4 separate regions of the Homo sapiens genome follow, and regions 2, 3 and 4 are each linked to region 1. The links come from fine-mapping of genetic effects on gene expression. A gene starts in region 1. Each other region holds a variant in brackets. All regions are shown on one strand. Distances are between the middles of the regions. Region 1 holds the start of RBM6 (RNA binding motif protein 6). Region 2 holds the start of GNAT1 (G protein subunit alpha transducin 1). Region 3 overlaps RBM6 (RNA binding motif protein 6). Region 4 overlaps USP19 (ubiquitin specific peptidase 19).

Region 1 (8,101 bases):
GAAACCTGTTAGCACTGGTGTGGCCTAGGTGTTCAAGGCTTAAACTTTGCTTTCCCATCTCTGCTTACTCCTTTACTCCCTTGGTTATCTCATCCAGGCCTGTGGCTTTAGATATTAGCAACATGCTGATACCTCCCAGATTTGCATCTCTAGTCCTGATCTTTATCCTGAACTCCAGACTGATGGAACCGACTTCCAGCTCCACATCTCACTTGTCTACTGGTTATTAGAAAACTCTACCTACCCAAAACTGAGCTCCTGCTCTTCCTACCAAAACTGTTTCTCCCAAATTCTTCCCTATCTTCCTTCATTCCAGTCCAACAGGTCTGTCTCCTGTTTCTACTGTGGCCACACTGCTGCAAGCACCATCCTTCTGTGGTTGGAATTTTTTTTTCCTTGAGATGGGGTCTTGCTCTGTTGCTCAGGCTGAAATACAGTGGCATGATTGTGGCTTCTTCCAAGTCTTGTAGGCTGCTGAATTTGGTTTCTGTAAGGAGGGAGATGGAAAGTTGTTAGAGGGCTCTGAACAGAGAGATATCATAACCTGAATTCCATGTTAACAGGATTCCTCTGATTGCTGTGTGGAAAACAGACTGAAGGTGGGAAAGGGGAGAAGCAGAACAGCTAGTTGGGAGGCTGCTGCAATAATCCAACCACATTGTTTGAACCCAGGAGTTCGAGGCTGTAGTGAGCTATGATCGTGCCACTGTACTGCAACCTCCACACCTTTCTGACCAAGACTGACTTGTCTCATCACACTTCTCCAAAACAATTCTGTTCCAGACTCCTTAATGATCCTTAAAAATTCTAGTCATGCTCATACCTCAGGGCCTTTGGCCTTGCTATTCTTTCTGTTCAGAACATTCTTTCCCCAGGTATCCCAATAGCTTGGTTCTCATCTTCTTTGGGTCTTTATTCCAAGAGCTCAGTGAGGCCTTCCCTCACTGCTCTAAAGTTACAACTTCCCACCAGAACTCCTCACTCTCCTTCCCTCCCTTATTTTTCTCCATAGCATTACCACCACCAGAGAGATTGTGTATCTTTTTTTTTTTCTTTTTTTGAGTTGGAGTCTCTGTCACCAGGCTGGAGTGCAGTGGCACAATCTCAGCTCACTGCAACCTCTGTCTCCAGGGTTCAAGCAATTCTCCTGCCTCAGCCTCCCAAGTAGCTGGGACCACAGGCACACGCCACCAAGCCCAGCTAATTTTTGTATTTTTAGTAGAGACGGGGTTTCACCATGTTGGCCAGAATGGTCTCGATCTCTTGACGTCGTGATCTGCCTGCCTCGGCCTCCCAAAGTCTGGGATTACAGGCGTGAGCCACCACGCCCAGCCTTTGAGACAGTCTCGCTCAATTGCCCAGAGCTGGAGTGCAATGGTGCGATCTTGGCTCATTGCAACCTCTGCCTCCCGGGTTCAAGTGATTCTCCTGCCTCAGCTTCCCGAGTAGCTGGGATTACAGGTGTGTGCCACCATGCCTAGCTAATTTTTGAATTTTTAGTAGAGACGGGGTTTCACCATGTTGGCCAGGCTGGTCTTGTACTTGTTAACTCATGATCCACCCACCTCAGCCTCCCAAAGTGCTGGGATTACAGGCGTAAGCCTCCATTCCTGGCCTAAGTGTACTTTATTTTTGAATGTTTAATGGGCTTTTCTTGCAGAAGACTTTTTTGATCCCATAATGTTGAATTTAGGCTATAAAATCAGGTTACCTTCCCTAAGGGCCCACTGACAGGAACACCAGATGGCCAAGACTAGCAAGTCTTTCAACAATGTAGACAGTACACCTAAGAACTTCAAGCTGGCAGTTGGAAGAACATTAGGTTGAAGATGCTGGAAACGAGCTGCAAATCGAGTTGTGTTGCCCCGTTTTCTGCTAGATTGCTGACTTGCAGTTTCCTTCCAGCTCCTCTGTGACCTTGCACAAGTCAGTCTTGGCCAGATTTATTGCCCAAGAGCTAGCAAGACCTGTGGAAGCTGGGTGGCTTTTCCTTTATGGGTTGAACCTTTAACACAGATGAAGTTTTTTTTTTTGTTTTGTTTGTTTTTGAGATGGAGTCTTGCTCTGTCCCCCAGGCTGGAGTGCACTGGTGTGATCTCACCTCACTGCAACCTCCACCTCCCGGGTTCAAGCGATTCTCCTGCCTCAGCCACCCGACCAGCTGGGGATTACAGGCGCCTGCCACCGTGCCTGGCTAATTTTTGTATTTTTAGTAGAGACGAGGTTTCACCATGGTGGTCAGGCTGGTCTTGAACTCCTGACCTCAGGTGACCCGCCCACTTTGGCCTCCCAAAATGCTGGGATTACAGGCATGAGCCTGTCTGCTATTCTTGAGCAGGGAATACATAATTTGGAAACTCATCAGAAGGAAAAGGGGCTGAGTGGAGGGGAAGGAAATTGCTTTAGTTCAGGAGTTCGAGACCAGCCTGGGCAACATAGTGAGACCTTGTCTCTAAAAAAAAGAAAGAAAGAAAGAAAAAGAATAGATTATGAGCAAATGCATGGAGATAAAGGAAAAGGGGATGAGCCTCCATGACATATTGATTCTCTAATCCAAGTTTTTCTGTTGTACCTATTGTCAGGTTTCAGGTAGAAGGGCTGGGAGGGCCAGGAGCCAGGGCCTTCTGTGGGTGCACGGCCATCAGCCCCTTTTCTTTCTTTCTTTTTTTTCAGACGGAGTCTTGCTCTGTCGCCCAGGCTGGTGTGCAGTGGCGCAAATCTCGGCTCACTGCAAGCTCCGCCTCCCGGGTTCATGCCACTCTCCTGCCTCAGCCTCCCCAGTAGCTGGGACTACAGGCGGCTGCCGCCACGCTCGGCTAATTTTTTGTATTTTTAGTAGAGACAGGGTTTCACCGTGTTAGCCAGGATGGTCTCGATCTCCTGACTTCGTGATCCGCCCGCCGCGGCCTCCCAAAGTGCTGGGATTACAAGCGTGAGCCACTGCGCCCAACCTCTTTCTTTTTCTTTTTTGAGACGGAGTCTTGCTCTGTTGTGAGGCTGGAGTGCAGTGGCGCGATCTCGGCTCACGGCAACATCCGCCTCCCGGGTTCAAGCAATTCTCTGCCTCAGCCTCCTGAGTAGCTGAGATTACAGGCATGCGCCACCACGCCCGGGTAATTTTTGTATTTTTAGTAGAGACGGGGTTTCACCATCTTGGCCAGACTGGTCTTGAACTCCTGACCTCGTGATCCACCCGCCTCGGCCTCCCAAAGTGCTAGGATTACAAGCGTGAGGCACTGCGCCCGGCCTCTTTCTTTCTTTCCTTTTTTCTGAGACGGAGTCTTGCTCTATTGTCCAGGCTGGAGTGCAGTGACACAGTCTAGGCTCACTGCAATCTCTGCCTCCCGGGTTTAAGTGATTCTCCTGCCTCAGCCTCCCGAGTAGCTGGGATTACAGGCGCCTGCCACCAAGCCCGGGTAATTTTTTTTTTTTTTTGCGACAGTCTCCCTCTGTCGCCTAGGCTGGAGTGCAGTGGCGCTATCTCGACTCACTGCAAGCTCCGCCTCCCGGGTTCACGTCATTCTCCTGCCTCAGCCTCCTGAGTAGCTGGGACTACAGGTGCCCGCCACCACGCTCCACTAATTTTTTGTGTTTTTAGTAGAGACAGGGTTTCATCGTGTTAGCCAGGATGGTCTTGATCTCCTGACCTCGTGATCCACCCGCCTCGGCCTCCCACAGTGCTGGGATTACAGTCGTGAGCCACTGCGCCCAACTTCTTTCTTTCTTTCTTTCTTTTGAGACGGAGTCTTGCGCTGTTGCCAGGCAACAGTGCAGTGGCGCGATCTCGGCTCACTGCAACCTGTGCTTCCCGGGTTCAAGCAATTCTCTGCCTCAGCCTCCTGAGTAGCTGGGATTACAGGCATGCGCCACCACGCCTGGCTACTTTTTGTATTTTTAGTAGCGATGGGGTTTCACTATCTTGGCCAGGCTGGTCTTGAACTCCTGACCTCGTGATCCACCCACCTCGGCCTCCCAAAGTGCTAGGATTACAAGCATGAGCCACTGCGCCCGGCCTTTTTCTTTCTTTCTTTTTTTCTGAGGTGGAGTCTTGCTCTATTGTCCAGGCTGGAGTGCAGTGGCACAGTGTCGGCTCACTGCAACCTCTGCCTCTGCCTCCCGGGTTTAAGTGATTCTCCTGCCTCAGCCTCCCGAGTAGCTGGGATTACAGGCACCTGCCACCAAGCCCGGGTAATTTTTGTATTTTTGGTAGAGATGGGGTTTCACCATGTTGGCCAGGCTGGTCTAGAACTCCTGACCTCAGGTGGTCCACTCGCCGCGGCCTACCAAAGTGCTGGGATTACAGGCGTGAGCCACCGCGCCCCGCCAACCAGCTGGAGATGGCTTAAACTTACTCCCGAAGAAGCTCCCTTCCATTTCTCTCACACTAACGGACAATAAGGAGGCCTCGAGCTAGGCAGGCCAGGGCCGTACCCGAGCTGCTGGCAGGGAGCAAACCTCAGGAAAGTCAAGCCACCAAAAAACTGTAAGCCTCAATCAACTGAGAGGAAAGCACAAGAGGACCAGGTGTCACAGGGCAGAGGCCAAACCACAACTCCCAGCAGGTCACGCGGAGTAGGGCGGGTAAGCGCGCCTTCTTATTGGATGGCGATGGACAGCGTGCTCTTACGACCCACCCCAGAAGGCAAGTCCCCTGCGCGCGGGGCACGGCGGGAGTAAGAGTCTGCGGGACCGGCAGCTGTACTTCATCTCCCAGCGGGCCGAGCGCTGAAGGCAGCGGCGCGGCGCCTTTGTGGTAGCAGTGGCCCCGCGCGGAGGAAGTTCCGGTGTCCGCGGCGCTGGGTCGGTGGCGGAGGCTGAGGAGAAGGAGGAGCGGGCCGTGGAGGCTTCGCCGCCTAGGTAAGGGCCCGGGACTGGAGGGGAGGCGTGCCAGAGCCTGCCAGGGAATAGCCAGCAGACAGGCCCGCTCTAGACATCGCAGGCCCGCGCAGCCTGAAAGCTGTGGCTTCAGTGTCGCGGGGCGGCTGCGGCCTCGCTCGGGAAGAAGACCAAGCAACGGTGAGATGAGGGAGGCGCCGCCCGTGGCAGGAACGCCCCGGAACCGTCGCGGGCCTGGGGCGGGGCCCGGCGCGGCAGTAGATTACCGGTCCCGCCGCGGAGCGGCCAGCTGTGAGGCTGGGGCCGGCGCGTGGTTGCGGCTCTGTGCTCCTACTCTTCGGAGCTGTAAGCGGGCTGTTCTTGCGGTTTTCCTGTTTCAGATCCAATTCTGTGGCATCACTAGGAAGGGAGCTCTTGTGCTTAGCACGTAGCCTCGTCCTCAGACTTGGACAGACACAAGGGAGGCTCCGCTGGACCGGAGGGCACAAGAGCTCCGAGCCCGGTCGTCGGGGCGGTAGAACCTGGAAGCGGGAGAGTGGTCTGGTGGGTTCTGCGCCCGTTAGGCAATGAAGGAGAAGGATGTTTTATCGTATTCACGCTTTAGATTCCATTAGCGGTGTAAATAGATGTTTTTCTCTTTATTTTAGAATTGACGTTAGGCGAATGGGTTCAACTTTGGGAATGCCTTTTTTTTTTTTTTTTTTTTGAAGGAAGGGCCCTGTTTCGTAGGGTACATAAACCGTGAGCGTAATTGTATTTTTTGCATATTCCAGGTTTGCTTGTGAAGGTCAGAGTAGCCGGATTTAAGTGAAGGAGTTCAGTAGACATGCAGACATGGTCACCTGGTTCATTTTCTGAACCCTGGATTGTGCCCTCGGCTTGCTAGTTTCCACCTTCCTATTGAGAAATGCCACCAGCGTGAATGATTTAAATATGTCACCATTACTGAATTTGTGAGGTCTCTAACGAGAGGTGTCAAGAGCTGGTGCGTGATGGTAGGACTGGCAGTGAAGAAAGTAACTAAATAATATGTTACCATTTTGGTGAAACACAAAAGTTGAATTTGAACCTTGTCTCAGAAACTAGCATCTAACTAGATACCTAACCTGCAGGACAGGTCCCAGGTCTCTCTGGATAGTTGTAGCACCTTTCCTTATAGAATTCTATTACCAGGCCGAGCCTGGTGGCTCACACCTGTAATCCCAGCACTTTGGGAGGCTGAGGTGGGGAGTTCGAGACCAGCCTGACTAACATGGAGAAACCGCGTCTCTACTAAAAGTACAAAATTAGCCGGGCATGGTGGCACATGCCTGTAATCCCAGCTACTTGGGAGGCTGAGGCAGGAGAATCGCTTGAACCTGGGAGGCGGAGGTTGCGGTGAGCTGAGATTGCTCCATTGCACTCCAGCCTGGGCCACAAGAGTGAAACTCTGTCTCAAAAAAAAAAAAAAAAAAAAAAAAAAAAAACCCGCAAAACTCAACAAAAACCAACATAGTAGAGGCAGCGTTTCGCCTTATGCCCAGCTAATTTTTTGTATTTTTTTAGTAGAGGCGGAGTTTCGCTATGTTGGCCAGGCTGGTCTTGAACTACTGACCTCAGGTGATCCACCTGCCTTGGCCTCCCAAAGTGCTGGGATTACAGGCGTGAGCCACCGTGCCCGGCCCTGTTATAGTATTTCTAAAACAAATTGTGAGCCTGGGCAACATCGCAAAACCCTGTCTCTACAAAAAATACAAAAAAAAAAAATTAGCCAGGCGTGGTGGCATGCTCCTGTTAGCCCTAACTACTCAGGAGGCTGAGATGGAAAAATCGCTTGAGCCGGGGAGGTAGAGGTTGTAGTAAGGGGAGATAGTGCCACTGCACTCCAACCTGGGCCACAGAACAAGACTGTCTCAAAAAAAAAAAAATCAATTAAATAAATTGTGGTAAATATATATTTTTATGTATGTTTATGTATATTTTAACAAAATTTGCTCTTTAAACCATTGTTAAGTATACAATTCAGCCAGGCACGGTGGCTCACGCCTGTAATCCCAGCACTTTGGGACGCCGAGGTGGGCGGATCACGAGGTCAGGAGATCGAGACCATCCTGGCTAACACGGTGAAACCCCATCTCTACTAAAAATACAAAAAATGAGCCGTGCGTGGTGGTGGGCGCCTGTAGTCCCAGGTACTCAGGAGGCTGAGGCAGGAGAATGGTGTGAACCCGAGAGGCGGAGCTTGCAGTGAGCCGAGATTGCGCCACTGCACTCCAGCCTGGGCAACAGAGCGAGACTCCGAGACTCCATCTCAAAAAAAAAAAAAAAAAGTATACAATTCAATGGTATTAATTACATTCACAATGTAGTACAAGCAATACCACTATTTCTGAAACTTTAGTATCTCAAACAGAAACTCTGTAACCAGGGAGGGCATGGTGGCTCACGCCTGTAATCCCAGCACTTTGGGAGGTCAACGTGGGCAGATCACTTGAGTTCAGGAGTTCAAGAACAGCCTGGCCAACATGGTGAAACCCCGTATCTACTAAAAATACAAAAATTAGCCATGCATGGTGGCATGCATCTGTAACACCAGCTACTAAGGAGGCAGAGGTTGCAGTGAGCTGAGGTCATGCCATTGCACTTCAGCCTGGGCTGCACAGCCAGACTCCATCTCAAAAAAAAAGAAAAAAAGAAACTGTAACCATTAAACAAGTTAACTTCCCATTTCCTCCTCTTAATCTCTAATCTACTTTGTGTCTGTCTGTGAGTGTGCTTGTTCTAGGTACTGCAAATACTAAATGGAATCATACAGTATTGTCCTTTTTTGTGTCTGGTTTATTTCACTTAGTGTAATGGTTTCAAGGTTGATCCATGTTGTACTGTGTATCAGAATTTCATTCCTTTTTAAGGCTTAATCCGTTGTGTGTGTACACTACATTTTGTTTATTAATTCATTTGTAGCAGACACTTGGGTTGCTTCTGCCTTTTGACTATTGTAAATAATGATGCTGTGATCATTGGTGTACAAATATCTCTTTGAGTCCCTGCTTTGAATTCTTTTGGGTATATACCCAGAAGGGAAATTGCTATATGGTAATTATTATTATTATTAATTATTTTATTTATTTTTTTTTGAGACAGGGTCTTGCTCTGTTGCCCAGGCTGGAGTTCAGTGGCACAGTCATGGCTCACTGCAGCCTCGAACTCGAGCTCAAGCAGTCATCCCGCCTCAGCTTCCTGAGTAGCTGGGACTACAGGCATGGGCTGCCACAACCAGCTAATT
Region 2 (8,101 bases), 250 kb after region 1:
CTTCATCCTCATCCTTTGGTGCCTTCTCCCTATTGATGGGATAACAGAGGCTAGGGGTGAGAAAACCCCATTCCCACTTCCATCCCCAGGGGCCCAGGAGAACAGGGACACTGGGCATCTGGGGACTTATGTATGTATGGCAGGAAAGGGGTGGAGACAGATGGTAGGCACCTCCAGGATACAGAGGCCATACACATGCTCGTGTGTGCACACACATGCCACAGTGCACCCCCTACAGTTCCAGCAGCCCAAACACAGGAGAATGCATGCCCCAGTGTCCTGTTCTCAGCAGGGCCCAAAATCAGGGTCTGGGTTGGTGGGGGCAGACCATGGCCATGACCCCCTATGTCCTGGGCCAGTCCCCTTTGACCTGGGGAAACTCTTCCACCTTGGCACAAAGCTCCAGCTCCAATGCCCTAGGGGGGTTTGGGCCCTGGTGGGGGAAGGGGCTGAGGCTGGTACCCCTTCCCCAGCATCCCCAGCCCCACTGAGGCCCTGCCCGGCCCGTTCCAGACCGCGGGACAGTGCAGAAGGTCATTGTGCTGCCCAAGGATGACCAGGAGTTGGAGGAGCTCATGCTGGAGGAGGTGGAGGTCTTCAAGGTGGGTGTGACACCACCCAGTCCTGACCTCCCCACCTTTACCCTCCCCCCAGTCCCAGCCTCTGACCTGAGACCTCTAGGTCAGGGCAGGGAGGGGGTCCCTGGCATCCCAAGCTGATCTTTATCTTTTTCTAGGATCCAGCACCCGTCAAGACCATGACCATCTCTTCTAAGAGGGTAAGCCTTTGGCGAGGTGAGCCAAGGTTGGGGACAGGGCCTGCATCCCCTCAGGGTCATGCCCTTGGCACAGGGATGGGTAAACTGAGGCATGGAACAGGGGAGAGGAGCCCAGCCTAGCTGGCTGTTGGTGGGGCTGGCTATGGGACAGGAACTGACAAGGCCCTACCCTTTGCCCCAGCAACAACTCTACGTGGCGTCAGCCGTGGGTGTCACACACCTGAGCCTGCACCGCTGCCAGGCGTATGGGGCTGCCTGTGCTGACTGCTGCCTTGCCCGGGACCCTTACTGTGCCTGGGATGGCCAGGCCTGCTCCCGCTATACAGCATCCTCCAAGAGGTGTGGACCCCTAGACACCTAGAATTTTAGCAACCAGTCCCAGGGCCCTATCCTAGGGGATTGGGGGTGCATGTGATATTACCCGGGGTGCATGTGATATTACCCTAGGGGAGTCTTATGGGTAAGACATCACTGCCCTGGGGAAAAAGGGCCCTGCCCTGGAGTCAGGGAGATACAGGGACCTGGGGGGGCAAGCTTCCTGGGAGCACTCCTTCAGGGGCTATCCTCATCCAGGCGGAGCCGCCGGCAGGACGTCCGGCACGGAAACCCCATCAGGCAGTGCCGTGGGTTCAACTCCAATGGTGAGTATGCTGGGCCTCACTGTGGGGTGCTGCTCACACTGCAGAAGTCCACGCAGCCCACGAAGCTGCTCACAGGGCCCCCACTGTAAGGGTGCTCTGATGGCTAATGGAGGGTGGGGGCTAATGGAGATGGGATGTCCCTAGTTGCCCCATCAACACAGAGCACTACATTGGTGAGTGGGTGCCCCTCGGTGCCTGCCCCGAAGCAGTCAGCAGGCTGCCCGGAGGTGATGCTGCTTTTGCTCAACCCCTCTCACTCTAAAGCCAACAAGAATGCCGTGGAGTCTGTGCAGTATGGCGTGGCCGGCAGCGCAGCCTTCCTTGAGTGCCAGCCCCGCTCGCCCCAAGCCACTGTTAAGTGGCTGTTCCAGCGAGATCCTGGTGACCGGCGCCGAGAGGTGAGTTCCTGCGCCCGGTGCTGCACCGTGGATGTGAGTCCTTGCACAGTGGTGAAATGTAGTAGAGGAGTGATCTGGAGCAACTCTCATGCTGTGAAACCCCTTCCAAGCTCCCTTCCCTACATGCAAATCCTTTGAGTGAAAACAGTTACATGGAAACTCCCTGGGATTGGCCTCATTCTATGGAAAGTGTTTCTGGGTATGCCTGTTCACATGAAAATTCCATATGCATACCACATTGGGGGTGTACCTTCTACAAAAACATCATGTGAGTGAGCTCCAGTATGTGGAAATTCTATGGGGCCCTCATTTTATGAAAATGCCCTACAGGTGTCCCTGTTTATGTGGAAATTCTATGTGGTTATCCCAATTGGATATTCTCGTTAAATGGAAATTCTGGCTGGACGTGGTGGCTCACACCTGTAACCCCAACACTTTGGGAAGCCAAGACAGGCAAATTGCTTGAGGTCAGGGGTTCGAGACCAGCCTGGGCAACATGGTGAAACCCTCTCTCTACCAAAAATACAAAAATTAGCTGGGCATAGTCATGCATGTGGTCCCAGCTACTTGGGAGGCTAAGGTGGGAGGATGGCTTGAGCCTGGGAGGCAGAGGTTGCAGTAAACCGAGATCATTCAACTGCATTCTAGCCTAGGCGACAGAGCCAGACCTTGTCTCAAAAAAAAAAAAAAAAAAAAAAAAGGAATTCTGTGTGTGCTTCAAATTTTCCTCATTGTACAGAACCTCCTTATGGTCATCACTCCTGAAATGGAAATCTGTACAGATGCCTTATTCAAATATCTCTCATTATGTAGAAACTTCATGTGGTTTTTCTGGCATATGGAAATCCCACATGGGTGCCTCTACACGGAATGGCCACAAAGGTGGTCTGATCTGGTTGCTGGCTAGGGCCATAGGGTGGTCACAGAGCCTCTGAACCCCCTCTCCTTGCCCCTGCAGATTCGTGCAGAGGACCGCTTCCTGCGCACAGAGCAGGGCTTGTTGCTCCGTGCACTGCAGCTCAGCGATCGTGGCCTCTACTCCTGCACAGCCACTGAGAACAACTTTAAGCACGTCGTCACACGAGTGCAGCTGCATGTACTGGGCCGGGACGCCGTCCATGCTGCCCTCTTCCCACCACTGTCCATGAGCGCCCCGCCACCCCCAGGCGCAGGCCCCCCAACGCCTCCTTACCAGGAGTTAGCCCAGCTGCTGGCCCAGCCAGAAGTGGGCCTCATCCACCAGTACTGCCAGGGTTACTGGCGCCATGTGCCCCCCAGCCCCAGGGAGGCTCCAGGGGCACCCCGGTCTCCTGAGCCCCAGGACCAGAAAAAGCCCCGGAACCGCCGGCACCACCCTCCGGACACATGAGGCCAGCTGCCTGTGCCTG[C/T]CATGGGCCAGCCTAGCCCTTGTCCCTTTTAATATAAAAGATATATATATATATATATATATATAAAATATCTATATTCTATACACACCCTGCCCCTGCAAAGACAGTATTTATTGGTGGGTTGAATATAGCCTGCCTCAGTGGCAGCATCCTCCAAAACTTAGACCCATGCTGGTCAGAGACGGCAGAAAACAGAGCCTGCCTAACCAGGCCCAGCCAGTTGGTGGGGCCAGGCCAGGACCACACAGTCCCCAGACTCAGCTGGAAGTCTACCTGCTGGACAGCCTCCGCCAAGATCTACAGGACAAAGGGAGGGAGCAAGCCCTACTCGGATGGGGCACGGACTGTCCACCTTTTCTGATGTGTGTTGTCAGCCTGTGCTGTGGCATAGACATGGATGCGAGGACCACTTTGGAGACTGGGGTGGCCTCAAGAGCACACAGAGAAGGGAAGAAGGGGCCATCACAGGATGCCAGCCCCTGCCTGGGTTGGGGGCACTCAGCCACGACCAGCCCCTTCCTGGGTATTTATTCTCTATTTATTGGGGATAGGAGAAGAGGCATCCTGCCTGGGTGGGACAGCCTCTTCAGCCCCTTCTCCCCTCCCCGCCTGGCCAGGGCAGGGCCACCCCACTCTACCTCCTTAGCTTTCCCTGTGCCACTTTGACTCAGAGGCTGGGAGCATAGCAGAGGGGCCAGGCCCAGGCAGAGCTGACGGGAGGCCCCAGCTCTGAGGGGAGGGGGTCCGTGGTAGAGGCCTGGGGCCGGTAGAGGCTCCCCAGGGCTCCCTTATGTCCACCACTTCAGGGGATGGGTGTGGATGTAATTAGCTCTGGGGGGCAGTTGGGTAGATGGGTGGGGGCTCCTGGTGGCCTTCTGCTGCCCAGGCCACAGCCGCCTTTGGGTTCCATCTTGCTAATAAACACTGGCTCTGGGACTAGACTTTGGCTTCTCTCCTTGGTCAGGGGATTTAGAGCCACACGTGGTGGGCCTGGGGAGCCAGGTGGGGGGCTGGGAAGGGAGTAGATTGGCTCCATTTAAAGAAACCCAACATGTAGAAACCACATTTAGTTTGACAAACCTGGGCTGCTGCACCACCCCAAACACTTGGGTAGTGCGAAGGGCTGTAGAGACCCCTCAGGGCCCACTCACTCCTCAGGGTCAGGGAGGGTGGGTGGAGCCTGAAGGCTGAAAGTGGCAGAAATGCAACGGCCTCACTCCTGGACAGATCCCCATCATCCAACAGGGTGGGTGTAGAAGCTGCCAGCCTGTGGTAGGAGCCAGCATTCACTTCCCACGCATACTATTTAGAGACAGCCGTTAGTGCTCAGTGTCTGGTGCCCCGGCACCCCCTTGTGGTCTCTTGAGTCTGTGGCAGAGTTGAGTGCTGAAAGGCAGCCAGGTTCCAGGGAAGAGTCCAGCCAGGAGGCTCAGGGTGCCTGGAGGAGCCTTTGAGAGCCCAAGATTTGGGTTTTCCTATGGAAGTTGAGGGTGGGAAGTCTCTAGAACCTGGGAGCTCAACCTGAACAATTTCTGCCCGGCAGTGAGCCCTGCACCTGAACAGAGCACCAGACCCCCTAAGCTGAGGCAGGCAGGCCCTGGAGATAATCTTAGGCAGGCCTCAGAGCACCCACAGCAGACAGAGCAGGAGCAGGATAGGTGAGCCCCATTCCTCCATACCCCAGGGAACACTACACCTGCTCTGGGATGCAATTTCTCCACCTGGCAACAGGCCTGCAAAACATTCTCTGGAAGAGCCTGGCCACTTCTGCAGATTAGAGACTTTGTTGCACCCAAATTCAAGTGTACATATAGGCACAGGCGCCTGCAAGCATGCATGCACACACACAGTCATACACAGGCAGAGATGGACATGCACAGGCACACATATGCTCAGGTACAAACAGGCATGTTTACACCCCTGCGTATAAGCAAGTGCACACATGCAAACCTACACAAACTGCAAAACACACAAGCCTATGTGTGCATGAAGAGAATACACAAAGCATATTCACACATGCATACACATGTGTATACATGTGCACACATACATAAGCATGCGCACAGGCACGTGATTCCTATAAGAGCACATGCACTCACAAAGGCATAAACATGCAGGCACACATGTACACACAGGTATTCATGCACAAATGTGTCAAGTTATTGCTCGCTTGGTGCCAGCAAAAGACACACCCATGGCCGGGCGAGGTGGCTCACACCTGAATCCCAGCACTTTGGGAGGCCGAGGTGGGTGGATCACAAGGTCAGGAGATCGAGACCATCCTGACCAACATGGTGAAACCCCGTCTCTACTAAAAATACACAAAAAATTAGCTGGGTATGGTGGCACATGCCCGTAATCCCAGCTACTTGGGAGGCTGAGGTGGGAGAAGCTTAAACCAGGGAGTTGAAGGTTGCAGTGAGCCAAGATCGTGTCACAGCACTCAAGCCTGGCAACAGAGTGAAACTCTGTCTCAAAAAAAAAAAAAAAAAAAAAAAAAAAAGGCCAGGCACGGTGGCTCATGCCTGTAATCCCAGCACTTTGGGAGGCCGAGGCGGGCAGATCACGAGGTCAGGAGACTGAGACCATCCTGGCTAACACGGTGAAACCCTGTCTTTACTAAAATACAAAAAAAGTAGCCCGACGTAGTGGCGGGCACCTGTTGTCCCAGCTACTCAGGAGGCTGAGGCAGGAGAATGGCGTGAACCTGGGAGGTGGAGCTTGCAGTGAGCTGAGATTGCGCCACTGCACTCCAGCCTGAGCAACAGAGCGAGACTCCATCTCAGAAAAAAAAAAAAAAAAGACACATACACCGAGGCACACAGAGCAGATATGCATGCCCACCACAGTCCGCTGGAAGCAGAGGACCTCCTTGGGGCAGCTCCAGCCTGTGATATGGGATGAATGCAATGCCCACTGTTTCCCTCTCTCTGGATTCCCTGCAGGTCATAAAATCCCAGTCCAGAGTCACCAGCCCTTCTTAACCACTTCCTACTGTGTGACCCTTTCAGCCTTTACTTCCTCATCAGTAAAATGAGGCTGATGATATGGGCATCCATACTCCAGGGCCAGTGTGAGCTTACAACAAGATAAGGAGTGGTGCTGAGCCTGGTGCCGGGCAGGCAGCAGGCATGTTTCTCCCAATTATGCCCTCTCACTGCCAGCCCCACCTCCATTGTCCTCACCCCCAGGGCTCAAGGTTCTGCCTTCCCCTTTCTCAGCCCTGACCCTACTGAACATGTCTCCCCACTCCCAGGCAGTGCCAGGGCCTCTCCTGGAGGGTTGCGGGGACAGAAGGACAGCCGGAGTGCAGAGTCAGCGGTTGAGGGATTGGGGCTATGCCAGCCCGATTAGAAGGGTTGGGGGGGCTGAGCTGGATTCACCTGTCCTTGTCTCTGATTGGCTCTTGGACACCCCTAGCCCCCAAATCCCACTAAGCAGCCCCACCAGGGATTGCACAGGTCCGTAGAGAGCCAGTTGATTGCAGGTCCTCCTGGGGCCAGAAGGGTGCCTGGGAGGCCAGGTTCTGGGGATCCCCTCCATCCAGAAGAACCACCTGCTCACTCTGTCCCTTCGCCTGCTGCTGGGACCATGGGGGCTGGGGCCAGTGCTGAGGAGAAGCACTCCAGGGAGCTGGAAAAGAAGCTGAAAGAGGACGCTGAGAAGGATGCTCGAACCGTGAAGCTGCTGCTTCTGGGTAGGGGTGTGGGCCCAGGTGGGGCCACTGCCACCAGGTCATTGGTCTGGAGGCAGGCAGGCAGCCCTTCTGTGAAGCAAGGATTCCCTGGGAAGCAGTATGAGCCTGTGACAGAGTAGGGCACAGGGTGGGAGCCCTGGCCAAGCAAGGCCAGGCCTGACAGGTGGTGTCCTAGTCCCCCAGGGCTGGACATCCCACAAAGCCCCTCTCCAGACGGCTCTGCCTCAGGTGACCCACCCTCCCCAGAAGTGCGTGCCAACCACACTCTTGCACGGGTGTGTGATGCCGACTTTTCCGTGGCTGGGTTCCCGCAAGCTTCATGCAGCCTTTGGTTTGATACGCCTGCTAGGCAATGCTCAGAAGCCAGGAGCCTCACTGGGAGCCCGTTATTGGGCTGCTACTTTGGGAAGGGGATGGCCATAGTCCTCCTGGGAGTGGGGAGCCTCTAGGACCACCCAGATCCACAACGAATGGCCCTCAGGTGCCAGAGGGCTGTGGCTGATAGACCTACAAAGCAGCCAGAGGGGCTGGCGGGTACTGAGGCCCAGTGGGAGTAGATAAAGCCGCGTCCACTGGACCATGGGCACTGAGGAGAGATGGGGCTGATCCAGGCCTGCCTCAAGGTCACTGCCTGACCTCTCAAGGGGAAAAAGCAGCTTCAAGAGGGGCTCCACCCAAGCTCCCCAGGGTCTGGTCAACCAGCTGGAGGTGGGTGAGGGACCAAGCCAGTCCCACTTTCCCCCAAGGCAGAGAGGCTAAGCCGGAAATCTCATTAACTGTGCCCAACGCCCTCGCAGGGGCAAGCTCAGAAAGGATGTCAACTCTGCCCTCCCTCCTACCCAAAAGAGCTAATTCCCTCTGAGCCTCCTGGAGACACCTGCACCCCTTCAGGTGAAATGCAAGGGGTTTACCCGCCTCAAATAACCCAGTGCTTGCGGTACCAGAGGCTCCCACGAGGTGGCGATGACGCTCCGGGATTTCTTCATTGCAGTCTCACAGCATAATAAAGGCTGCCTGTGCCGGGGTCTTGGGGACTCCCCTGTCCCAGAACAGTTGAGGTCGTTGAGTCCCCTCGTTGGCTTCCTTTCTTCACTTTCCTGGCATTTGCAAACCTTGTGACTTCAGGATGTCAGGACTTAATTTGGATGGGGGGGTAGGTGTGGCTACGGGGTCGGGGCTGGCGCTCAGGCCTCTTCGCT
Region 3 (8,101 bases), 31 kb after region 1:
GGATTTAGATGCAGCCAGGGCTGATGCTCAGCTGGTGAACACTGGTGTGCTTGTTCCTACTGGTGATTTACAACCAGTGTTTCTTCTTTTTGGGCCTGCATCCATTTTGATTGGGTGGTGTCCATGCTGTATCTGTAATAAAATATTTTTGAATGTTACCGCTGGATGCAGCGTGAGAAAGATACCTCCTGAAACTTACTGTAAGAAATTTACAGTGCATTGATTTTTCTGATATATAGGAATCGTCATGTTGACCTTGGAATTCTTAAGTTCCCTGGCTGTAGGAAATGGAAATTTTTGTAGTATGTCACCATTGTTAGCTTATTTGGTATTGCGGATTTTCCCTGTTGCAGGACTGGGTGAAAGCTTTTTCTGCAGCAGTCATGTTGAAAACCTTGTGTTGACTTTCCTCGTGTTCTGAAATGGGAGCATAAAAGTTTACTCCGCCACTTCGTCTTAAAATAGCAAAACTTTGCTGTTTTCTGCAGATCTAGGACCTTGTTACAGAACTCTGCCAAAAAAAAAATGTTTACAGAAGAATGTGCTGTGATTAGAGAAGAATATGCTGGTGTGTAGATTTCAAACTCTCTGGACAATATGAATAACACTGTCTTTGTTTCTACAGTGGGAGCCAAGAAGAAAGGTTTGCTCCCGGGTGGAACAGGGATTATCCTCCTCCTCCCCTTAAGAGTCATGCTCAAGAGAGACACTCTGGCAACTTTCCTGGCAGAGATTCACTTCCCTTTGATTTCCAGGGGCATTCGGGGCCTCCTTTTGCAAATGTAGAGGAGCATTCTTTCAGCTATGGAGCTAGAGACGGACCGCATGGTGACTATCGAGGAGGGGAGGGACCTGGACATGATTTCAGGGGGGGAGATTTTTCGTCTTCTGATTTCCAGAGCAGAGATTCATCACAGTTGGACTTCAGGGGTAGGGACATACATTCTGGGGATTTTCGGGATAGAGAAGGACCACCTATGGACTATAGGGGTGGAGATGGTACTTCTATGGATTATAGAGGTAGGGAGGCACCTCATATGAACTACAGAGACAGGGATGCTCACGCTGTTGACTTCAGAGGTAGGGATGCTCCTCCATCTGACTTCAGGGGCCGGGGCACTTATGATTTAGATTTTAGAGGCCGGGATGGATCCCATGCAGATTTTAGGGGAAGGGATTTATCAGATTTGGATTTTAGGGCCAGAGAACAGTCCCGTTCTGATTTTAGGAATAGAGATGTATCTGATTTGGACTTTAGAGACAAAGACGGAACACAAGTAGACTTTAGAGGCCGAGGTTCAGGTACTACTGATCTAGACTTTAGGGACAGGGATACGCCACATTCAGATTTCAGAGGTAGACACCGATCTAGGACTGATCAGGATTTTAGGGGCAGAGAGATGGGATCTTGTATGGAATTTAAAGATAGGGAGATGCCCCCTGTGGATCCAAATATTTTGGATTACATTCAGCCCTCTACACAAGATAGAGAACATTCTGGTATGAATGTGAACAGGAGAGAAGAATCCACACATGACCATACGATAGAAAGGCCTGCTTTTGGCATTCAGAAGGGAGAATTTGAGCATTCAGAAACAAGAGAAGGAGAAACACAAGGTGTAGCCTTTGAACATGAGTCTCCAGCAGACTTTCAGAACAGCCAAAGTCCAGTTCAAGACCAAGATAAGTCACAGCTTTCTGGACGTGAAGAGCAGAGTTCAGATGCTGGTCTGTTTAAAGAAGAAGGCGGTCTGGACTTTCTTGGGCGGCAAGACACCGATTACAGAAGCATGGAGTACCGTGATGTGGATCATAGGCTGCCAGGAAGCCAGATGTTTGGCTATGGCCAGAGCAAGTCTTTTCCAGAGGGCAAAACTGCCCGAGATGCCCAACGGGACCTTCAGGTATGTTGATGGGGTGGATTGCTTTTTTTTTTTTTTTTTTTTTTTTTTTTGAGACGGAGTCTCGCTCTGTTGCCCAGCCTGGAGTGCAGTGGTGCGATCTCTGCTCATGCAAGCTCCGCCTCCTGGGTTCATGCCATTCTCCTGCCTCAGCCTCCTGAGTAGCTGGGACTGACTACAGGCGCCCACCACCACGCCTGGTGTGAGCCACCGCGCCCGGCCTGCTTTTTTTTTTTTTCTTTAAATAAGACTTTTGTGAAGGATGACATTTATTTATTTATTTATTTATTTATTTTTGAAACGGAGTCTTGCTCTGTCACCCAGGCTAGAGTGCAGTGACATAATCTCAGCTCACTGCAACCTCCGCCTCCCAGGGTCAAGCAATTTTCCTGCCTCAACCTCCTGAGTAGCAGGGATTGCAGGCATGTGCCACCATGCCCAGTTAATTTTTGTATTTTTAGTGCAGATGGGGTTTCACCATGTTGGCCAGGCTGGTCTCGAACTCCTGACCTCGTGATCCGCCCACCTCGGCCTCCCAAAGTGCTGGAATTACAGGCATGAGCCACCGTGCCTGGCCAGTTTTTTTTTTTTTTTTTCATTTTATTTTTATCTTTGCATAACCATTAGAAAGCAAAATTTGTATTCAGGAGTGGAATGTAGGAATGTAAATCTCTAGAGAAAAGGTCCTCAGCTCAGATCATATATATGTGTGTGTGTGTGTATATATATATATGAATATATATGTATATATATGAATATATATTTATATATATATATTTCTTTTTTCTTTTATTCTTTTCTTCCTGCTTCACTTTCCATTTGTGTATATATGTGTGTGTATATATGAAGGAACTATATATATATATATTTGAGACACGGTCTTGCTCTGTCACTCGGGCTGAAGTGCGGTGGTGTAATTATGGCTCCTTGCAGCCTTGACCTCCCAGGCTCAAGCGATCCTCCCACCTCAGCCTTCTGAGTAGCTGGAACTACAGATGTGCGCCAGCCACTATGCCTGGCTAGTTTTTTTTTTTTTCCTTTGAGAATGAGTCTTGCTCTGTCGCTCAGGCTGAAGTGCAGTTGTGCGATCTCAGCTCACTGCAACCTCTACCTCCTGGGTTCAAGGGGTTCCCCCGCCTCAGCCTTCCAGGAAGCTGGGACTACAGGTATATTTCACCATTCCTAGTTAGTTGTGTTTTTTTTTTTCTTTTTTGAGATGGAGCCTCACCGTGTTGCCTAGGCTGGAGTGCAGTGGCAC[G/A]ATCTTGGCTCACAGCAACCTCCGCCTCCCGTGTTCAAGCAGTCTTCCTGCCTCAGCCTCCTGAGTAGTTGGGACTGTAGTTGTGCACCACCAAATCTGACTAATTTTTGTATTTTTTGTAGAGATGAAGTTTAGGCATGTTACCTAGGCTGGGCTGGAACCCCTGATCTCAAATGATCCACCCTTCTCAGCTTCCCAAAGAGCTGGGATTTCAGGCATGCACCACCATGCCTGGCCAGCAATTTTTGTATTTTTTTGTAGACAGAAGGTTGCAACATATTTCCCAGGCTGGTTTCAAATTCCTGGGTTCAAGCAGTCCCCCCACCTTAGCTTCCCAAAGTGCTGGGATTACAGCAATGAGCCACTGCCCCTACCCTTTTGATGTGTGTTTATTCATTATTTTGTTTTATGATGCTGATTTACATGCCTTGGGATAATTTAGTTTGAAAGTATATGTCTTTGGGAGTTGACTCTTGCAACTCTCGCTTAGTTAGACCTGTGATTGTTTAGGGATCATTTTCTTATTTAAATTCATTGAGAGAATACTTAGGAGTCTCCCTAGTTGTGAAGAGCTGATATTAATGTTGCAACTATCCTCTTGCAGCTAACGTAATTAACTTAAATGTTAAACTTCTTGAATATATGATTTAAGCAAGGAGGGTTATATTTGTAATTTTACAATGAAGGTATTCTCTTTTAAAGTAGATTTGGCTGGGTACAGTGGCCTATGCTTGTAATTTCAGTGCTTTAGGAGGCTGAGGTGGGAGGATCACTTGAGGCCAGGAACTTGAGACCAGTGTGGTGCAACCTCAGGAGAGAATGTGAGGGTGGGGAAGAAAAATAAGGCCAGGCACAGTGGCTCATGCCTGTAATCCCAACACTTTGGGAGGCAAAGGTGGGCAGATCATTTGAGGTCAGGATTTCAAGACCAGCCTGGTCAACATGGTGAAACCCCATCTCTACTAAAAATAACAAAAATTAGGCCAGGCGTGGTGGTTCTTGCCTGTAATCCCAACACTTTGGGAAGCTGAGGCAGGTGGATCATTTGAGGTCGTGGGTTTGAGACCAGCCTGACCAACACGGAGAAACCCCATTTCTACTAAAAATACAAAATTAGCTGGGCGTAGTGATGCATGTGTGTAATCCCAGCTACTCGGGAGGCTGAGGCAGGAGAATCCCTTGAACCTGGGAGGCAGAGGTTGCGGGGAGGCAGAGGTTGCACTATTACACTCCAGCCTGGGCAGCAAGAGCGAAACTCCATCTGAAAAAAAAAAAAAAAACGAAAACCAAAACCAGCCAGGTGTGGAGGTGGGCGCCTGTAATCCCAACTACTTGGGAGGCTGAGGCAGGAGAATTGCTTGAACCTGGGGGGCGGAGGCTGCAGTGGGCTGAGATTGTGCCACTGCACTCCAGCCTGGGCGACAGAGCGACACTCTGTCTCAAAAAAAAAAAGACATTATCTAGTCATCTTCTCTCACCAGAGGTATGAAGTACTGCTAGTTTACAGCCCATTCTCCAGCTCTCAGACCAGGGAAATTTTTCTTTTTTTTTGAGACGGGGGTCTCGCTCTGTCACCCAGGCTGGAGTGCAGTGGCACAATCTTGGCTCACTGAAACCTCTGCCTCCCAGGTTCAAGTGATTCTTCCGCCTCAGCCTCCTGAGTAGCTGGGACCACAGGCGTGCACAGCACAGTTGGCTAATTTTTGTATTTTTAGTAGAGACGGTTTTACCATGTTGGCTAGGCTGAGAAAATTACTGTTTTGAGACTATGTTAGTGTGTCTTTCTGGTTATTAAAGTCTTACTCAGTCTTGTCTCTCGTAATGTTTTGCTTTACTTTGAAGACTCTTTCAGTGAGACTTGGTCTTAGCACATTTACATTCTTATGATTTGAAGTCACATTCTGGCACTCAGAACAATAGAGAAAATTGTAATTTTTTATATCTTCACGTGACATGTCATTATCATTTTTGATCCTGAGTGGCTAAATTTCATGTTGATTTGTGTTTTGTGCAGTAAAGTATATTTGTGAAATAATTTTTCATTCTCAATTTAAGGATCAAGATTATAGGACCGGCCCAAGTGAGGAGAAACCCAGCAGGCTTATTCGATTAAGTGGGGTACCTGAAGATGCCACAAAAGAAGAGGTAAGGCATGTCTTCTCTCCTGTTTCTCTGTGTCAATTAAAAATTAAAAAAACCTTTTAATTTGAAAAATTGTAGATTCACAAGAAGGTGCAAAGAAATGCACAGAGAAGTCTTGTGTATTTTTTTCCCATCTTCCCTCAGTGTTAATATTTTGCACAACTGTGGTATAGTATCTAAACCAGGAAATTGACCCTGGTATAATACATAAAGTTTATTCAGATTTCACCATTTATACATGCACTCACTGAGGTGAGGTTAAAAAAAATTATGACAAATGATTGCTCTCTTTAGACCTGATCACATCCTTTAGAGCATATTATTTCTGGAGTATGTACATAAGGATGCAGTTTATTTACAATAGTAAAAACTAGAAACTGCCTAACTGCCCTGTATCAAAGGATTGGCTGACTAAATTAAGTCTGAACTTATGGCAGTGCTCGCTCTGTGCCAGGCATTGTGTGATACTTACAAGCATTAGTTCATTTAATTATCACATATTTAATATAATCACTCTAAATATTAAGCATTACTGTATGTAATTGTTCTAGATACTGAGTGACACAGCAGTGTATATTATCAAGTCACTGCCTCCATGGATAATGAAAAAGCAAGCAAAAGGATTACACAATTTTAGTCAGCAAATAAATACTCTGAAGAAAACTAAAGTACAGGCGGGGCATGGTAGCTCGGCCTGTAACTCGGAGACAGAGTCTTGCTTTGTCGCCCAGGCTGGAGTGTGTGGCGCGACCTTGGTGCACTGCAACCTCCACCTCCCCAGTTCAAGCAGTTCTCCTGCCGCAGCCTCCCGAGTAGCTGGGACTACAGGCACACACCACCACGCCCAGCTAATTTTTGTACTTTTAGTAGAGACGGAGTTTCACCACATTGGTCAGGCTGGTCTTGAACTCCTGACCTCAGGTTATCTCCCTGCTTCTGCCTCCCAAAGTACTGCCATTACAGGCATGAGCCACCAAGCCCAGCCCATTTTTGATTTTTTTGAGGCAGCGTCTCACTTTGTTGCCCAGGCTGGAGTGCAGTGGCACAATCACGGCTCACTGCAGCTTCTACCTCTTGGGCTCAATCGATCCTACCACCTCAGCCTCCTGAGTAGCTGGGACCACGGGCATGCATGCTAATGGGGCTGTTTTTTGTATTGTGTAGTTAGGGAGACATCACTGAGGAAGAGGCATTCGAGCCCAGGCTTGAATGCCGTGAGAGAACAGTTTATATGAATATGGGGAAATGAACTGCCCAGGCAGTTCATGCTGAGGAAGTGCTGTGGCCCTGGACTGTAATGAACCCAGTACATCATTTTATATTTAACACATGAGAAACTGGACACTAAAAGGTTACACAGCAAGTGAGCAGAGAGCTTGGAATGCACACAGTATGATTTCAGAGCTTAAGCCTTTGAAGGTTATGCTCTTCTGCTTTTCTTTTTTTTTTTTTTTTTTTGAGACAGAGTCTCACTCTGTCACCCAGGCTGGAGTGCAGTGGCGCGATCTCGGCTCACTGCAACCTCTGCCGCCAGGGTTCAAGAGATTCTCCTGCCTCAGCCTCCCAAGTAGCTGGGATTACAAGCACCTGCCACTGCACCCAGCTGATTTTTGTATTTTTAGTAGAGATGGGGTTTCACCATCTTGGTCAGGCTGATCTTGAACTCCTGACCTCAAGTGATCCACCCGCCTCGGCCTCTCAAAGTGCTGAGATTACACGCATGAGCCACCGCGCCCAGCATTTTGTTTGTTTGTTTGTTTGTTTGTTTTTGAGACAGAGTCTTGCTCTGTCACCCAGGCTGGAGTGCAGTGGCACAATCTTGGGTCACTGCAACCTCCGCCTCTCGGGTTCAAATGGTTCTCCTGCCTCAGCCTCCTGAGTAGCTGGGACTACAGGCATGTGCCACCACGCCCGGCTAAGTTTTTGTATTTTTAGTAGAGACGGGGTTTCACCGTGTTAGCTAGGATGGTCTCGATCCCCTGACGTCATGATCCGCCTGTCTCGGCCTCCCAAAGTGCTAGGATTACAGATGTGAGCCACCGCTTCTGGCCCTGCTTTTCCTATGTACCTGAGAATTTTTAAATATTTATTTATTTATTTTTGAGACAGGGTACTCCAGACTGGAGTGCAATGGCCCAATCAAGGCTCACTACAGCCTCAAACTCCTGGGCTCAAACTATCCTCCCGAGTAGCTGGGATTATAGGTGTGAGCCAGTACTCCTGGCTAATTTTTTTTTTTTTTTTGAGATGGAGTCTCGCTCTGTTGCCCAGGCTGGAATGCAGTGGTGCGATCTTGGCTCACTGCAAGCTCCTTCTCCCGGGTTCACGCCATTCTTCTGCCTCAGCCTCCCAAGTAGCTGGGACTACAGGTGCCCGCCACCACGCCTGGCTAATTTCTTGTATTTTTTAGTAGAAACGGGGTTTTACCGTGTTAGCCAGGATGGTCTCAATCTCCTGACCTTGTGATCTGCCCACCTCGGCCTCCCAAAGTGCTGGGATTACAGGCGTGAGCCACCGTGCCCGGCCAATTTTTTTTTTTTTTTTTTTTTTTTTTTTTTAAAGATAGTGTCTCGCTCTGTTGCCCAGGCTGGAGTGCAGTGTCATGATCTCAGCTCACTGCAGCCTCAGCCTTCCAGGTTCAAGTGATTCTCCTGCCTCAGCCTTCCAAGTAGCTGGGATTACAGGTGTGTGCCACCACACCAGGCTAATTTTTGTATTTTTAGTAGAAATGGGGTTTCACCATGTTAGCCAGGCTGGTCTCGAACTCCTGACCTCAGGTTATCCACCCGCCTTGGATTCC
Region 4 (8,101 bases), 830 kb before region 1:
CACTAAAGAGAAGATCCTGAAGGCTCAGCAAAGACAGATGCTTACCTCAAAGAGTATAACAGCCACCAGAGGCCATGGCCAGCCCAAATAGGCCTTGTCTTGAGTGCACACTAGAACTCAGGGACATCACAAGTGAGGGTGTGTGGGCCAGCATGTGGGGAATGTGCAGAGGAAATCTAGGAGAGTGTCAGGTATAGTTCATTCACAGCATAGTGCCCAGTGAGGTTCAGAGCAGTTGCCTGACCTGTGCCAAGTAGGTGCCAATGTGCTTGCCAGTGGCAGCATGTTAGTGTACTTGTATGTTTGTTAGTGTCCCCAAGGCATGGGGATGCCTCTGGCTAAAGCTTTGATGTTAAGAGAACTCTGCAATTCTCATGAATCCCAAGGCTCAATGGGCCTGTGGCTGGAGGAGAGGAAGCTATATCCCCCAACCCGGCCCCAGTCTGTGAACTGTCCCCCAGTATTCTGTAAAGCCTCCCACATGCCTCACCTGGCTGGCAGCAGCCTCAGCTGCAGGGCCTAGGTCTGGGTGGTGCTCAGAGTGACCTGCCCTGGGGGGCCTCTCCACAGGAGAGTTCCGCCGGCGGTAGAAGAGTACATAGGCATAACGCGTCACAACCTGGCTCTCGTCTACCGTTGTCACTGTGCTGTCATCAAACAAGCGCCAGCCTACAGCAGGGTGGGAAGAGTGTGAACAAAGTCTGCACCACCACCCCTACCACCTATCCTGCTGGCTGTGTGTGCCCTCACCCACGTCACTGCGCTGACTGCTACGATCATTGGGCAGGCGTGCACAGGCAGTGTAGTGGCCACCAATCATGCCTCCATAGTGGTTGATGACAGCATATAGATCGTAGCTGGGCAGCTGCTCCTCTTTCTGACCAATGCAGAACTTGCTCAGGTCCAGGTTCCTGCAGGTCAGGTCCAGTCAGGGAGGGGTGAGACAGGCAACAGGCGCTCAGGATGCCCATCCTGGTCCTCACACCCCACCCACAGTTACCAAGGTCCACTGCTTACCTAACAGGGAACTCCACCAAGTCATTGATCTTGTCACGCCAGATAAAACTACGAAAGGAGAAGCGCTTGAGCTGCACGATGAGAACATTTGGCAGGCGCCATAGCAACAGCTGCTTGGAGGCCTCACGGTGCTGTTTGCACTGTGGGCAGTACCTGGTGGGGACAGAGATTGGGTCAGGACCAGCAAGTCTCTCTCTTCTCCATCCTGCCCCCTTATCTACTTGCTGCTCTGTTCTCACCAGGCCTCCTCGGGTGCCAGCACCTCAGGCCGTGTGAAGAGGTTGAGGCACTGGTCCAGGGTGAAGTGGCCGGCCCGGGCAGCCTCACCGGCAGAGCCTGGATCCTCAGCACATTCCAGCTCCTTGGAGGCTACCAACACAAACTCCTGCAAGCGCTCATTGTTCCGCCAGACGAGAGCCAGGCTACAGTCGTCACCCAGCTCCAGTGGGGTGTCTCCTGGAGATTCGCAGGGAGAGAGGTCATGCAGCTGTGGAGAACAGCCAGCTCAACCCACCCCATGGCTCCCACCCACAGCCTCAGACACCTTTGTCCTCTAGCCGCTGCTCTCGGTTGGATGAATCAATTTTATAGATGAAGAACTGGGGTGTGTGGGCATTCATAGCTTCACTTGGATGCTGGTACCCAGGCACAGCAGCTGTGTGAGAACATGATAATCAAAGCTTCCCTGCCCATCAGGGCCTCACCAGGCCCACCAGGCCCTAAACAACAGCCCCCTCCATCCTCCCTTATCCTCCTCCCCAGCTTCTAGAGCCTTTCACTGGATCTTACCTTCGGGTCGGGACACCCTCTCGCCAGCTGGCAAGGAGCCAACCTCAATGGGCCCACTGGCCAGCATCTCAGAAGAAATTCCACTGGTGCTGGGCACAGGACCCCGGTCAGGGGCTGCCCACACCCGGGGAAGCCCTGTGTCCCCCTCAGCCATAGGGGTCACCAGCTGGAGCTCAGGTGGCTGAATGGGGTCTCTCTCGCTGTCCCCAGCCTCCAGGGAACCTGTGGAGAGCAGTGTGGTGCAGCCAGGGCTCTGAGACTCCAAGGCCATGCGGCCTGGCTGAAAGGGTGGCTGGAATACACTCACAGAGTACCTGGCAACAGAGAACAACGCAAGTAAGACTCCTGACCAGCCCATCTAGCACCTCTGCCCCCACCTACACCACTCTAGTCCAACCACTGGGCACTTACCGGGCATAGCCCTCTAGCAACTGAGCGAGGCGGGCATAAGTGAGGCGTGAGGCAGGTACACTGACCAGGAAGGGGTAGCCAATGTTCTCAGGTCGGCAGAGGCCCTTGTGGTCAGGCCAGTGGGTTTTCTGGCAGAGCCTGACGGGAAGAGGAAGACAAGGATAGGCCCTTAGCCCCATCTCCTATGACTCCATACTGGGGGCTAGTCATAGTCCCTGGGAACTGGGTACGCCAGCCCTGCCTCCCCCAGAGCCTGGTAAAGTAGGGTGGCAAGTAGAAAGCTTAAGCATATGTGCCTTGGTGTGAAGGGAAGGAGCAGGGTGGCACATGGAAGGTGGAAAGAAAGGGTAGGGGAGACCATGGGGGTCCTCACTGGTTGCAGTAGCCCACACGGTAGCACCGGGTACAGCGCTTCAGCTTTTCATCCTCCGACTGTTGCTTCCGCTGGCAGGCTGCACACTTGGAGATGGGGACGCTGGGCACCTGGGGGCGCTAGGGTGGGTCGTCTGGCTCAGCAAGACCAGGAAGAAGTGCCCCACCCACCAGGGCGCTGTGCCATCAGGTTGGCCCCCACTCACCTGTTGCACCTCTAGCACCACTACCCGCTCCTTAGCCAACTCTGAGGATAGCAGCTCAAAGCAGAGGAGCGTATCAGATGGGGACACAGTGTCCAGTGAGTGGGAGGGTAGGAACACACGATGAAAACGATTCTTAATTACCTGGGGACAGAGAACACACAGATCCCACGTGAGGATAAGCCCTTTCCCTAGCCCTGCCCCAGAGTTTAAGAAGGCTTGGCCCTGCCTTGGGTCTATGTGGGCAGTGGTGAGGTCTGTAGGCCCAAATAGGCTTATGCCTCTGCTGGCACCTGTCTCAGTGCCCAATGCCATAAGGAGCCTGGTGCATCAGAGGGCCTGAAAGACCAGGTGTGAGGCAGATATCAACCACACCAGCTCTCCACACTGAGGGACTCTGCCCTGCTATAACTAGCATAGCCTTATAAGACTGTAACATATTATCATGGAGGGTCCACATTCAAAGAGCCTCCTCCCCACTCTTACCCCTAAGAAAACCAACACTGTCAGGCTAAAGGCTAGGAACCCCTGGGGAGAGCTAGCACACACAACTGGGATAAAAGGAGAGAGCAGCAGGATAGAGGGAGAGGCAGAGCGAACATAGGGATAGTCCTGCAGCTCAAGCTCCTTGTCTAAAAAGGGAAATGCAGTTGGGATCCACCACCACAAAGGGGAATAAACCCTGATAATGGCTAGGAACTGAGGGCACTTCTGTTGCACAGAAAAAATAACAGCACATCGCCTGTTTTTGTACAGTCACAGGCATACTCATGTGTATGTCTATTTTTATTTTATTTTATTTTATTTTTGAGACAGAGTCTCACTCTGTCACCCAGGCTGGAGTGCAGTGGCGCGATCTCGGCTCACTGCAACCTCTGCCTCCCAGGTTCAAGCGATTCTCCTGCCTCAGCCTCCTGAGCAGCTGGGACTACAGACATGTGCCACCACGCCCGGCTAACTTTTCCTGTATTTTTAGTAGAGGTGGGGTTTCACCATGTAAGCCAGGGTGGTCTGGATCTCCTGACCTTGTGATCCATCAGCCTTGGCCTCCCAAAGAGCTGGGATTACAGGCATGAGCCACCACGCCTGGCCCTATTTTTATTTTTTTATCTATTTATTTATTTATTTTTGAGACAGAGTCTCACTCTGTCACCCAGGCTGGAGTGCTGTGGTGCAATCTCTGCTCACTGCAACCTCCACATCCCGGGCTCAAGTGAGCCTCTTGCCTCAGCCTCCCAAGTAGCTGGGACTATAACACGTACCACCATGCCCAGCTAATTTTATTTCTTGTAGAGACAGTGTTTCACCAAGTTGCCCAGGCTGGTCCCAAACTCCTGGGCTCAAGTGATCTGCCCACCTCGGCCTCACAAAGTGCTGGGACTACAGGCATGAGCCACTGTGCCCAGCCCATGTGTATGTCTGTAGATGCCAATGACTGTACACACGTCTGTGGTGAGTACACACACACATCCACACATGTGATAGCCCAAGGAAGGACAAAGATACCTC[C/T]GCCAAACGCAGGTTCTCAGGCTTCACATGAACACTCTGAGAGAGGGAGTCCAATACTTCGCTCGCAGTGGAGTTCTCCTTGCTGACGCTCACCAGGAACTGTGGCAAAAAGGGCAGTCAGTGAGGGAGGTGGGCCACGTTCTCTAGAACAGCCCAGAGGGTAGGGGCTTACTCCTCACCTTGATGGGCTTGCTGTGGGGCTCTCGGGCAAAATAAAAGACAGGGAGAACCTTTTGCTTTTGTGGCAAGGGCACCGGCAGATAAAGAAACGGGTCAAAAGTGATGGAGACCTGTGGATGTAGAGGTGGCACTGGGTAGCTGCACACAGAGTGGGAGATAAGATGCTCATGCTCAGAGAGCCCATTCCGGGGCTTCTGATGGCTCTCAGGGCCCCCACAGCCAACCAGCAAACTCTCAGGCTTCAGGACACTAGACAGGGCAGGAGGACCACCAGGAAATAACAATCCTTCTTTCTGGCACTCAAAGCCCTACTCAGCTTAGCCACTTTACGAATTGGCCTCACACTTGCACCCCATGTGCCCACAACCCTGCTACAACACCTTTGAGCTCTAACATCACTTTTCCCTCAGTCAGGAAGCCTACCCTGAGTGGGCTCTTCAGCCCAAATAGAATCCTAAGGCCTCCCTGCCAGCTTCTTTGCCCAAACCTTGCCCTGTAGCACCTTAAGATGCACATGCCTCTGAACCTAATGTGACCAGAATAGCTGAGCTGAACTAGGGGGTCTCTTTCCAGGGGAGCCCATCACACCTTGGCACACACAGGGCACACCAGCTTCGACTTGTACTGCCCCTGAAATAGGTCCACGATGAAAGAGTCATTCCTCATCTTGTGCCGCTGCCATGCTTCCTCAGCTACCACCTGAGAGGCAGAGTGGTGAGAACCAAAGAGTACCAGGGGCTGGGATGCTCATGAGACATGCCCACCCTCTGTCCCTAACCCTGACCTCATCGGGCCGCCCATCTGAATCCACGGTCTCTGTGTAGGGCTTGTTCTGAATGCGATTCAGGTCCTCGTGCAGCCCATCCAGCAGGAAAGCCATGAACTCCTGGGCATCATGCTGTGCATAGCCTGTGAACTGGCTGGCCTTACTCGCCACAATGGCCTGGATACAGGAGCCAAGGTGTGAACATGAAGCCCTAGCACCCACTGCACACCCAGCTGGCTGGCCCTCCCCGCCCCCTCCAGCCAAGGGTGACAGTGGTCACAGATCACCTTCAACTTGGAAGGCTGGAAGGCATGGTGGGTGCCCTTCCACAGCGCCCGAAGCAGCACGGCAAAGCCAATGGCCAGACGCCCACCAGTCCCTAGTGGGTTGTTGTAGTTGATCTCAGCCTCAAAGGAGCGGTCTAGGAATAGTAGCCGAGCAAAGGTGTGAGGAACAAAGGCACTCTCTCTGCCCATAACCCAGGCTCCAGGCCCTGCCCTCACCATGGAAGAAGTCCCGGAGTTCCCGAGTGTTGGACAGAGACTGAATGACGCTGTTCATGAAGCAGGTGTTGCCTAAATTGACAAGGCCAGTGAAGCCTGGCAGACACACCTTCTTCTCTTCCTCTTCCTCCTCCTCCACGCTGTCTCCACTAACTGGGCTGTGGGGCATGGGAGGCACCATGCATGTAGGCTTGGGCTGCAGGAGCAAAGACGACATGAGAGAACAGCCCCAAGACTCTCCAGCCTCCATTCTTCGTCCTTCCCACCCCAGAATTCTCACCGAGGCCAGGTGTGTCTCTGGCTTTGGGGTTACATGCTCCATGGGTGTGCGGGTTGCCACACTGTCTAGCCCTGTGTCCTCAGATCGTGCCTTGGATTTATCCTTCTCCACAGCCCGGGCCTCCTCCTGGCCTGTCAGGGGGTGGGGAGCACCTCCTGGTGGGGTTGAATCCAGAGGGGTTGGACCTGTCGGCACGGCAACCTTTGCACCACCCACTGCACCTTAAAAAGGGGGAATGAGAGGGCTGGTGGTTAGCAGCATGTGACAGGGGTTTGGGTCCTGGTCACGTGGAACTGGGCAATGAAGGGAGCTCGTGTGCAGACCTCGTGCAGCCGGGGCCTCCAGGCCCCCCCAGCGCTGACTCTGCCTCTTACGAAGGCAGATGTCGATGCGAGAAGCCGTGAAACAGAAGGTGCACTGCTCTGGCTCAATCAGATTCCTGTGGGAAAAGGCTGAACTCAGGGACTTAGGAGGAATGAGCATCAGGATAGATGAGCCAGGGAGATGGAGCCCACGGGGTAGGACAGGCACAGTGGTGGGGCCGGGCACCACCCACCTGAGCTTCACCTGCCAACGGAAGGTGGTGTGGGGCCCACAGCCCGGGTGCAGCCTCAGGAAGTTTCCATCCCTGCAGAGGCACAGCAGGATAGGAGGAAGGACAAGAGGAAGAGCATGAGACATACTGTCCCACCTGAGGCATTGTTTGCCCCATCATCTACCCACCCACCTGGTCTGGAAGATGAGCGTGAAGTCCTGCTCACGGAAAAGTACTCTTGAGGTGTCCCTGCAGATCTCCTTCACGTACACGTGCACCACCACTGAATCCGGGCCCTTCTCATACGAGTCATTCTTGACAAACGCCAGGTTCACCATCGACTCGGGCTCTATATTGAGACCATGGCTCAGCCCCAACCAGGACAGGTTCCAGCCTATTGCTACTCTCTATCCACCTACAAACTTTGCAACCCAACCTAGGGCTCTGCCTGCCCACCCCCACCTTTACCATCCACCAAGGTTGCAGCATCTGCTGCCACTGCCATCTCCTCCTTGGCACAGTCATCTTTCCCAGGGTTTCTGCTCCGGACCATGGCTGGAGAGACTGGGTCATTCCCGGGAGGCACTGCTTTCTCTCCTGCCAAAGGGGCTAAATTCTCCTCTGAGCCCAGGAGGCAGGTTTGGGAGTTCAGCGGTGGTATGCAAAGCTGTTCATCAGCCTCAACCTATTAATGGCAAGATTGTGGAAAGAATCAGCCCTGGGTCTGCCAGGTGGCTCCCACTCCAGTGCACACCCTTTCCCCCCATCTCCTAACACCCAAACAGGTGCCCAGCTCTCACCTGGGTGGCTGGGTCAGCCACGAAGGGTGGGGCATCACCCCGGGGTCCAGGGTCATCCCTGGACCCGTCCCCCTCTGGCCCTCTGCAGAGATGCACAGCCCTCTTGGCGCTGGGCCCTGCCTGGGCCCCGGGGCCAGCCCCTGCGCCTACCTCACCACGGCCCTGGGCCCGCTTCTGGTTCCGGGCCTCCTGCTTAGCCCGGTGGGGCTCAGGGCCTGGCTCCAGGGCAATGGGAGACAGTTCCTGCCCATTCTCCTGGCACCGCAGCCCCGGCACCAGCTCCTGGGTCCCTAGAGGTTTCTTCTGCCAAAGATACAGCAGTCAGGCCCTGTCGACTACACTGGTATCCCTACCCAACCCTGTACTACTAGAACTCACCAGGAGGGAGGGCCACGTGAGCATAGGCACCTTTTTGGGCAGTGTCAGGTGCAGGAGACTGCCCTTGCGGGTTTGCACTTTAGCACAAGAGCTTTTTATCTCAGCATAGAAGACACCACCCCACTGCTGACCACCTGGGGACAGAGCAGGGTCCATGAGGTAGGATAGGAGATATCAGAAGATTCAAACATACTACTGTGCTCAGGGCAGATGGACACACCTGCAAACCGCACCACACAGTCTGTATCTGTGAAAGCAGCATCTACATCCTCCAGCTGCAGGGGACCTACTCCCACACGAAGCTTGACAATCACCTCTTCTGCACTCTGCCTCCAATCGAGCAACAACTCTGGAGTGG

The links. PIP is the estimated chance that this variant, and not a neighbour inherited with it, causes the effect.
Region 2: its variant is fine-mapped to the expression of RBM6 in whole blood (TOPMed, PIP above 0.99).
Region 3: its variant is fine-mapped to the expression of RBM6 in whole blood (TOPMed, PIP above 0.99).
Region 4: its variant is fine-mapped to the expression of RBM6 in whole blood (TOPMed, PIP above 0.99).

Annotation. Positions count from the first base shown.
Region 1 is chr3:49,935,369-49,943,469 of GRCh38, forward strand. RBM6 (RNA binding motif protein 6) reads left to right here and starts at 4,782. Exons shown (of 21, transcript NM_005777.3): 1 at 4,782-4,857. RefSeq lists enhancers at 4,412-4,934, 4,643-4,702, 4,733-4,782, 4,813-4,872, 4,935-5,456 and a silencer at 5,013-5,212.
Region 2 is chr3:50,184,930-50,193,030 of GRCh38, forward strand. SEMA3F (semaphorin 3F) reads left to right here. Exons shown (of 19, transcript NM_004186.5): 14 at 514-602; 15 at 737-778; 16 at 960-1,117; 17 at 1,352-1,419; 18 at 1,684-1,817; 19 at 2,776-4,146. The coding sequence ends at 3,186. GNAT1 (G protein subunit alpha transducin 1) reads left to right here and starts at 6,681. Exons shown (of 9, transcript NM_144499.3): 1 at 6,681-6,902. The coding sequence starts at 6,797. The variant C/T (reference allele first, on the strand shown) is at 3,206.
Region 3 is chr3:49,966,845-49,974,945 of GRCh38, forward strand. RBM6 (RNA binding motif protein 6) reads left to right here. Exons shown (of 21, transcript NM_005777.3): 3 at 626-1,904; 4 at 5,215-5,304. Among named protein-coding and RNA genes, the nearest start is that of RBM6, 31 kb to the left of the region's middle. The variant G/A (reference allele first, on the strand shown) is at 3,160.
Region 4 is chr3:49,109,694-49,117,794 of GRCh38, forward strand. USP19 (ubiquitin specific peptidase 19) reads right to left here. Exons shown (of 27, transcript NM_001199161.2): 4 at 7,964-8,101; 5 at 7,744-7,877; 6 at 7,366-7,668; 7 at 7,034-7,250; 8 at 6,758-6,914; 9 at 6,587-6,658; 10 at 6,354-6,469; 11 at 6,031-6,251; 12 at 5,751-5,946; 13 at 5,535-5,668; 14 at 5,266-5,424; 15 at 5,070-5,180; 16 at 4,481-4,591; 17 at 4,299-4,400; 9 more. Among named protein-coding and RNA genes, the nearest start is that of USP19, 7.1 kb to the right of the region's middle. The variant C/T (reference allele first, on the strand shown) is at 4,302.